2 separate regions of the Homo sapiens genome follow, and region 2 is linked to region 1. A link means that fine-mapping ties the variant in region 1 to the expression of a gene that starts in the linked region. Tissue or cell type: esophagus muscle. Region 1 holds a variant in brackets; the other region holds the start of a gene. All regions are shown on one strand. Distances are from middle to middle.

Region 1 (5,157 bases):
GCCTTTTCACATGAGTACAGACAGTTTCATATTTCTCATGGTTTTCCATATGTCTCTCCTTCTCCGTCTAATTTTTTCTTTTCTGCTTCGATAATATGTAAGTTTAGCTATAGGACATATTGGGAATACTTTTCTTCTAATATATTTTCTAGAATAAAAATGTTGTTCTTCAGGACTCCTGAAACCAGATGTAATTCATGGTTAAAATCCTTCACAAAATTATGAAAAAGTTTATTGTTGACACTTACAGACTCCTTTATGTAATCTGTTTTTCTTTCCTTTGCCTTCTGTCACAAATCGACACTCAGAATGAGAGTTGATATGGTCGTTGATAAAAAAATGTATAAAATATAGATAAAAGGAATAAATACGTATGCTTACTAAACGGGCTGACTGATCTGTTGCTAATATTCACCCATACCAGTCAGTTAAGAATGATTCTAAGCTTGTACTCATGCTCAGTAGGATAATAAGCCATGCGTAGCGAGTAACTTTTCATGAACTTTGGCTAAAGTAGACCTCTTCCAAAAGTGTTTGCAGTTTTTCAAGGTAGAGATACAGTGAATTAGATGACTACTATGTGATGGAAAATATATTTGGGAGGAAAAATTTTCTTAGGTACTCCTAATTTTTATTCTGCTTTTCTAGCCACACACATATTTCCTAAAATGAACTACTGTGGCAGCATCTTAGAAATAATGAGTTGCTGAGTCCTTTAGAAGTTTTTCTCTTCAAACACCTTATGGAGGATATTTAGCGCAGCATGTACTTTCTGAGGGCTGTCCCCTTTTTCTTCCCCAGCCTTGCTCCTCTCACATGAGATATCATTTCTAACAGCTCCAAGAGAAGTTACCTGTATTTCCTGATGCCCCCAAATTGCCCTTAATCAACACACAACACATTCCCATGTGGAATCTTCACCTATTGTTCATTTCCTTCGTTAATGAAAACTTCATCTTCCTCTCCCCTCAACACTGCCATAGATTTCTATGACAATATTATTCAGACATCAGTAGTATGGCTTCTAGCTTTCTATTTTGACAAGACTGTATAAACCCAAAAAAAAAGCCAGACCAATTTTTATTATGAAAATATAGCATATAATAATAAATTTTAATGTTGACTTTTATATTAAAAAATGGCACTTTTGTAAACTCTCTTCTGGTAAGACTACAAATTATATCACTTTTCTAGTGGGCAATATGAAAGCATGTATCCAAATTACAATATGTATATTCTCTGAATTTAATCTAAAAAAAACATAGACATAGGCAAAGATACATATGCAACCTGATATATACATGTAAATATATATACACATTATACTTATACAAAAGTGCTATATTTTTTAACCTAGTAAGTCGCAACCCAATTTATATATTATGTATATATATGCAACCTAATTTATATATATATATGTGTGTGTATATACATATATATTTTACATATATATAAAAATTGGGTTGCAACTTACTAGGTTAAAAAAATAATAGTTTTATATAATGGATATCATTGCAGCCAATACAATAAATAAGATACGAACATGGAAATGAATTGTTATTGAGTAAACTATCTGTTTAAGGGTAAACAGATAAGTTGCAGAATTGGAGAAAATATTTGCAAAATATGCATCTTACAAAGGTCTAATACCTAGCATCTTTAAGGAACTCAAACAAATTTACAAGAAAAAACAACCCCTAAAAGCCCACTAAAAGTGGGCAAGGGACATGAACAGACACTTTTCTAAAGAAAATATACATGTGGCCAATAGCATATGAAAAAAAGCTCAGTATCACTGATCATTATAGAAATACACATAAAACCACAATGAGATACCATCTTACACCAGTCTGAATAGTTACTATCAAAAAGTCAAAAAATAACAGGTGCTGATGAGGTTGCAGAGAAAAGGGAATGATTATACATTGTTGATGGGAGTGTAAATTAGTTCAACCATTGTGGAAATCAATGTGACAATTCCTCAAAGAGCTAAAAGTGGAACTACCATTTGGCCCAACAATACCATTACTGGGTATATATACCCAAAAGAATATAAACTGTTTTACCGTAAAGACACATGCACACAAATGCTCATTGCAGCACTAGTCACAATAGCAAAGACATGGAATCAATCTAAATGCCCATCAACAGTTGACTGGGTAAAGAAAATGTGGTACATGTATATTATAGAGTACTACATAGGAAAGAACAAGATCATGTCCTTTGCAGGAACATGGATGGAGCTGGAGGCCA[C/T]CAACCTTAGCAAACTAATGCAGGAACAGAAAATAAAATACTGCATGTTCTCACTTGTAAATGGGAGCTAAATGATGAGAACACATGGGCATAAAGAGGGGAACAACAGACACTGGGGCCTACTTCAGAATGGAGTATAGAGGGTGAGAGGAGAGAAAGCAACAGAAAAAATCACCTGCAGGTACTAGGCTTAATACCTGGGTGATGAAATAATCTCTACAACAAACCCCCAGGACATGAGTTTACCTATATAACAAACCTTTACTTGTATCCCTCAACCTAAAATAAAAGTTAAAAAAATTATTTGTAGTTTCGTATTTGTACTCTAAGGTATGTTTATATATTAATTGTCTTGGTAAGCCAAATATATAAGTGTGTGTGTGTGAGCGATATATATATGTGTGAGATATATGTGTGTGAGAGATATATGTGTGTGTGTGTGATACATATATATGTATGTGTGTAATGGTTATCTCTGAGGAGTGGATTTATAGAATTGGAAGATAATTTTCTATTTCACACACTTTTTGTTACAACTTTTATATCAGATCTGTATACCTTTATAATTTAAAGTATTTCTCCATTTTGAAAAACATTACTAGTGGGAGAGGACACAAGGCAAATAACCTAATGAGAAATTGAATCCAGGAACAATTGAAAGATGGCTTGTACAACAGCTTCTTACTCTTATTCTCTTTGCGTGCATGTCACCTAAGTATTAGAATGTATTTCCCTTATATGGCTTCTCATTATCATCAAGCACTCTCCATTTCCTGAGATTCCTGAATTACGTCCCTTGTTTCTAACTAGATTTGTTTCTAAGCAGATTTTATTCTTCTACTCTATCTCCCTGTGCTGAGCACTGTCCTTGGCAGAACAAGACAGCAACTGCAACAATGATTCAGACAAGAACAAACACAGCTCTCCCACAGGACAGCACACACAAGGGGAAGTTCCCCTATGCCCATGGAGGGGAATTGCTAAGCGAACTGTAGTTTAGAAATTCTTGCCCAGGAAGAAGTGATGGGCTTGTCAGTAGTTCTCTGATTGCTCACTTACAGTTAGCCTGGATTCCTTGGAGCAATGAGGTCATCCAATCTCTAGGATGTAAATCCTAATAATTTCTGGGCACATAAGACATATTCCTTTTATTATCTGTGGATATCAAAATTGGGCTATATCTTTTGTTTCTCTTTTTTTCCTCATAGACTCATTTTTGGGGGTTCATGTAGTATTTCTCATTCTTCTTTCTATACTAAATGCTCTAGTTAGGTTTTTCTGGCAAAAAAAATTATAGCCTGAAAGTTGCTTATGAATCTGTTTCTATCCTTTTGACTTCAGATAAATCCTTTGAGAATAAGCGAAAGAACTGCCCCCTGTTACGGTTTTAGCTTTCATTGCACTTTAGTATAGAAGTATGAAATAAACCCTTCAGTCAGACATGCAGGAACACAATATGAAATGAGGCCTTGGGAAATTTGGCATTGTTATGGGATTAGAGACAGCCACAATACATAGTCAGTTTTTTAAAACGGGCTAGCTATAATTTTGGGACAGCAAATGTACTTCAAAGTGAATATATCTGTACACATAAATATAGACATAGTTATACACATGCAGGTTAATGAAAATGTGGATAGGGGCTGTTCTACTTAAATGTTTTCAACTTATACATATTTATAGACACATACAAAATTACATTGACTTTACTCCACAGAAAAAGTAGATCAACATGCCCACTATCTAGAGTTGGCATTAGCATTAGTGCCTTGTAATTTTAGACCCTGTGATATTTTATGTTGGTCTCTATCTGCAGACTAGTTAGTGAGGTTGGCTTAGTTTTGAGATGTTTTACCAGCCTTATTTGCTGTATCTTTGGTAACTCTTGGTTTAAGAAAACATTTAAATTTCTACTAAGAGAGCTAACAATCACAGCTGAAACAAAAGCAAAGTAATTTAAAACATGCACGTAGATTAAAAGTGGTGAGAAAACAAAAAAATACCTTCCGTGTATATCGCATAAATCATTCCATAGTGAAAATGACTCTGAAAAACCACACACAAATCTTGCAGCAGGTGTGTATCACTCTGTTTGTGTAATAAATACTAACAATATTAACACAGCCTCCCAACTTGTCTTCCTTTACATTTGCTGCCCCCCCCGCCCCCACTCCGACCCCATGTTTCATTCTGATTCCAAACACAGGAGCAGAATGATCCCACTAAAACACAAGTAACATCATGTTACTTCCCTACTCAAAATCTTCCAATCTGTTTTTTTCCTCAAAGATCTATTAATCTTTCCGCAACCCCAGTTGCCCTTCTTGCCTCATCTAGTTTGCCTCTCCTTTTTGCTCAAGATGTTCCTTACACGCAGCTTCCTTGCAATTCTAAGAACTCATTAGCACTCTCCCACCCCTGTGCCTTTGTGCCTAGTATTTCCATTCTTTGGACCAATTTCCTTCCCAATACACAAGACTCTTTTCCTTTCCCTCAAGTATTTCCTCTGATGTCACCTTTCCAAGGAAACCTTCCTTGACACCCTACTTAAACTGTAACACTCCCTCCTTTTCTGTTCTAATTCAGTGCACCCTTTCCCCCTCCCTGCTTTAGACTTCTGCACAGTGCTTACTAGCATGTGGCAAACTATATGTATTTACTCATCTATTGATTTCTGTCTTCTTCTATTTGAAATAAGTTTCTCGAGGGCAGGAAATTTTGTCTGTTGTGTTTAGTCCTGGATACCTAGTACATAGTAGGTACCCAAAAAACCTTTGTTAAAGAAATGAGTATTTAGTGAATTGATTAATGAAAAATAAAGGATGACTATGTCTGCAATGAAGCAAAGTGACTTGTGAACTGGGCTTTAAGTGTCTACCTAAAAGATCAAGATCCATATGGGTA
Region 2 (5,157 bases), 500 kb before region 1:
GATGCAACTGGAAAAATACATTTGAAGGTGCAAAGCATGCACTTGGTTGAACACTTATACCAAGGATGGAGGAAGTAAAATGCAGCTGCACAGAACTGAAAATATTTTCTGGAAAGTAATGCTGACAGGTGATATGCTTTTAAAGAATGGCTTCTTACTAGCCATGCAAAAATATGCAAAAGTTGTTTTCACCCAGCATGTTCTGGGTCTACAAGACATTCTGCAAATGTACTGAGGTCTGTTACCAAAAAAGGAAGACGAACAAAAATAAATATTTTAATATTTCTAATATTTCTCCTGGTAGAAGCCCTGAAGTGATATAAAGTGCCTGCATTATAATGAAAATGAACTTGAGCAAACCTTGCATTTGGATGTGGATTTTTCCTATGGATCAGGATTTTTGAGTACCTGGAAGAGAAAAGGAGCATTATTTGTTATAATACTTTAACAACTATTTCAGTACTGCTTGTTAGACAATTTTTAGGAAGACTACACATAACTTTTTAGGAGATATGTGGAAAAAACAGATGTTGACCAGTATTACTGTGGTACATAGGTGGAATGCAATTGCTCTTTGATACAAAGCTCTACAAAAAAAAAAAAAAAAGGTTTTTTTAAATTATAGATTTTCCTAGTTAACCTGTAACTGTGTTTTTTTTCTTAGAGAGATAAAGTGATGGAAAAGAAGGATGAATAGTCTGCCCAGGACTCATAATGTTGGTATTTCTTTTTTATAGTTAATTCACAAAGGTGGTTATCACTGGTAACTCTTTGTGGAAAATTCTCCATTCTTTTTTCTTTAGAAGTAAAAAGGGACTGTTTCATATTTTATCCAAATTACAACCAAATTGGTGAGGAAAATGTGAGTCAAAGTATTTTCTAAGTCATAAATATTTTTGAATGTTTTTGCTACTAAAGTTTCACTATAACAAATCTCAAAGAAATAAAATATACTAATAGGACATTTATGCTCTTCAAGGAAGTTCTGATGGGAGCATTTAAGTCTGGCCCCAACCTGGGGACTACCTGCTTACTTATTGTCCCCGAGGTTATAGTCATACCCTGAGGTCAGTGGCTTCAATCTTTCTGTAGTTGCTGGTCAGCTGTGGGACAGAACTGAATCCACCTCACATTCTATGTTGGGTACAGCTGAAATTTAGTGAGTTCAGCTGGGCACAAAGCTGAGTAATTTTCAAATAGAATAAAGCAAAGCTGTAATCTATATCTTTTTCTTAAACACCCTCTGTACCTACCCATTAGTAATAAATTTGGCTGGGTGGTTAGAGTTTGGGATGTAGAAGTGACTCTAATATTTAAGAGATGAGTCTGCTAGTTTACTCTTTTTTAAAATAATTTTTGAATTTTGAAACTTAATTTCTAAATAACACTCTCTAAAGAATCTAGATCAAAAATTGTTATTTCATCAGGAGCATTAACTAAATAAACACTGTTAATAATAGCATTGAAAATTATTACACACCTATTGGCTCAAGCTTATGGCTTTTGGTAGAAGAAATAGCAGACCATAATTCAGATTTCATTCATTCATTCCCATCAAGAGGAAAGGGTTTGCCGATCTAAATTTGAGCAGGTTGGTGAAGTATGCATATGTCTTTACAAACTTATTTCATAGTTTCATTTAACAAATCTTCAGGTTCAATTTCACCCTCAATACATGCCTTATAGAGATAGATATCACAATTATTAGATGAATTTATGATTTTAGGGTTTGCATCATACCCATATATTCACAAGTTTATAAATTCTGTTTTTAAAACCATCAGATCTTGTGAGACTTACTATCATGAGAACAGCACAAGAAAGACCTGCCGCCATGATTCAGTTACCTCCCACCGGGTCCCTCCCACAACATGTGGGAATTCAAGATGAGATTTCGGTGGGGACACAGCCAAACTATATCAAGAGTTTAACTGACAACTGCAATCATCCCAGACACCTGACCCCACTTGCCTGTACCTTTCCTCGGAGGTCCAATAAAAATGCCTGAAGCTCAGTGTTCCATTTAGGGTTCCACTTTCTCACCAGGATGTCTGTACAAGAGATGCATAGTCTTACGGGAGAGTAAAGTATATATCTTTAAACAATTTGTTTACTATGATATTCTACTAAGTGCATTTATTATCTTGCTTTCTCTCCTACCAGCAAAGGAAAAAAAATCATCTTAAGTAAATTTTTATAGATGATACTATCCCAAATTCTTCAACAAATGTTTTCCTGTATAATTTTTAAAAGGTTTGTTAAATGATAATGCCTTACTGATAGATTGTTGTATAGAAACTTTACTGGAAGGGATTCAGGAATACTGAAGAATGGAAGAAATCACAGAGAAGTCCAGCTTCTGATTCACCTTTGTGGGTGATATGGTTAGGCTTTCATCTTGAACTGTAATCCCCATGTATCAAGGAAGGAACCTGATGGGAGGTGATTGGATCCTGGGGGTGGTTCCCCTATGCTGTTCTCTTGATAGTGAGTTCTCAGGAGAACTGATGGTTTTAAAAGTGGCTCTTCCTTCTTCACTCTGTCTCTCTCCTGCCACTATTTAAGATGTGACTTGCTTCCCCTTAGCCTTCTGCCATGATTGGAAGTTTCCTGAAGCCTCCCAGCCATGCGGAACTGTGAGTCAATTAAACCTCTTGATGTGGTTTGGCTGTGTCCCCACCGAAATCTCATCTTGAATTCCCACGTGTTGTGGGAGGGACGCGGTGGGAGGGTCTTTCCTATGCTGTTCCTAAGCTCACAAAATCTGATGGCTTTATAAACAGGAGTTTGCCTGCACAAGCTCTTTTTTTCTTTCTGGCCGCTGTCCACGTAAGATGTGACTTGCTCCTCTTTGCCTTCTGCCATGATTGTGAAGCTTCCTAAGCCACGTGGAACTGTGAGTTCTCCATTAAACTTCTTTCCTTTGTAAAGTGCCTAGTCTGGGTTATGTCTTTATCAGCAGCGTGAAAACGGACAAATACACCTCTTTTCTTTATAAATTGCCCAGTCTCAGGTAGTATCTTTGTAGCAGTGTGAGAACAGACTAATACAGTGGGCATGTTCTGCTCCATACAATCTGACACTTGATTATAAAGTAATTGTTCGCTGTACGTTCTTTTATCTCAGAATAACCTGTTTTCTAATTAGTGCTTTATAGAGTGTTATAAAGTGTTATAAAGTGTTACAGAGTGTTACTTTAGCCTTTGCTTGCTGCAAAAGAAAAATTGGGCCAGAAATTGGCTATATATCTATCGGATCTCCCTCCCTCCCTTTCTATCTCCCTTTCTCTCTCTGACGAATCTAATCTGTGAACGATGGCATTTGAAAGCAAAGCAAAATGCAAAATACGCAAAAATAAAAGTTCTCTGGTGTTAGAAGACAGAAGAATCTTTTGAAAATTTAATTAAAAATTAAATTACCAGGCCTCTTCCTTAGAAATTCTGATGTGGTAAGTCTGAGCTGGTATCCAGGAATTTCCACTAAATAAGCTTCCTTGTAATTCCATTGCAGGTGATTCTTCTACTCATGTTAAAAACACTGGCTTAGGGAATCTGTATTAGGGATTATTCTGGTTGGCAGAATTTACCTATTTTCTAGCTATTCTACTGATATTTCCAGAACTGGTGGTCTATGATAAAGCATTTGAAACTTAAGTATTCGATTCTGGCTATTTGAAACTCACATTTTTCCCAGAAGGGCATTATTGTCCTATTATGAACCCAACAGCCATTCCTGCTTTCCTTTTTATTGACTTTTGCTTGACCTACTCAGAAATAACTATTATTTGGGTCCAGCGAGGCCCCAGGCTGTTACATATTTAGCACTTCTTTCTCCAACTCTAAGCCATCCAGCTTGGCTTAGCTATATAAAAAGCTCTTTCTCACAGCGGTGTTTCTGCCTGGTTGTTTATTTAGTGCATATCAGTTCACTGTTGCTTGCTGAATTGTTTCTTTTTGCTTGGCAGAGATGTTAAGTTCCCTGCTCCTATTGCTACATATTATCTGCAGCTTTCAGCCAAAATTATTAAGCAGATTTTGTTTAGTGAAGCTACATTTATTTAAAACAATTTTCTTTACCTGCAATCATTTGACTTTTTCATGATGTTCCTGCCTGATTTGCTTGAGATTTTTAATGATAATTCACCAAATAGTATACGGGAAGGTGGTTTATAAAATCATGTAGGTATTTGAATGGTTCAAAGGATTTTACTGTTCCTTCCACCCCAACATGTACCTCTTTTCATTGTAATTTGCTTGTGTGTGTGTGTGTGTGTGTGCGTGTGTGTTTTCATCCCTTCTCAGTTCTTGAAAAAGAAGTTGTGCCACATAATTAGTGGCCATTTAAGTCAGAGGTAATTTTTGGTTTACAGTAGCCATATGTCCTGATGGCACAGTTATTTCAAATACATTATTCAATTTTCTTCATGAATGTATTCATAGTTAATATGAGCGAGTCCTGAATTACGGGTGAGGGTTTATTTTCACCATTGCTCAATTTCAACAATTTGTGTTAATTCTACCTTCTAAACATCTCATGTATTCTCTCCTTTCCGTCCCAGTTGTCACTGCCTTAGTAAGCTGTCACTGTATTCTGCGGTGGACCATTAGGGGCCTGAACCTGAACTTCTATTTGCCCTCTGGATTACTCTGTTTAAATTCTTCCACTACACTTGAGTGATCCTGGACAATCTGCCTTCTCATGCCTCTGTGTCAGTGGTCCCCAACCTTTTTGGCACCAGTGACTGGGTTTGTAGAAGACAATTTTTCCATAGACTGGGGTGGGGGGAAATTGTTTCAGGATGATTCAAGTGCATTACATTTGTTGAGCACTTTATTTCTATTACATTGTAATATATAGTGAAATAATTATGCAATTCACCGTGAAGTAGAATCAGTGGGAGCCCTGAACTTGTTTTCCTGCAATCAGATGGTCACATCCGGGGGTGATGGGAGATAGTGACAGATCATCAGGCACTAGATTCTCATAAGGAGCTCGCAACCTAGCTCCCTCACATGTGCACTTCAAATAGGGTTTGTATTTGCTCTTAATAGAATCCAGTGCTGCTGCTGATCTGACAGGAGTTAGAGCTCAGGAGGTAATGCCAGTGATGGAGAGTGGCTGTAAATATAGATGAAGCTTTGTCCACTTGCTAGCCGC

What was found. PIP is the estimated chance that this variant, and not a neighbour inherited with it, causes the effect. A credible set is the group of variants that fine-mapping cannot tell apart.
Region 2: LINC02147 starts here. The variant in region 1 is the best candidate, but not a certain one, in a credible set for the expression of LINC02147 in esophagus muscle (GTEx, PIP 0.76).

What each region holds. Positions count from the first base shown.
Region 1 is chr5:118,225,529-118,230,685 of GRCh38, forward strand. The region is part of intron 2 of LINC02147 (long intergenic non-protein coding RNA 2147); the gene reads left to right. Among named protein-coding and RNA genes, the nearest start is that of LINC02148, 54 kb to the right of the region's middle. The variant C/T (reference allele first, on the strand shown) is at 2,254.
Region 2 is chr5:117,727,773-117,732,929 of GRCh38, forward strand. LINC02147 (long intergenic non-protein coding RNA 2147) reads left to right here and starts at 2,589. Exons shown (of 3, transcript NR_104997.1): 1 at 2,589-2,636.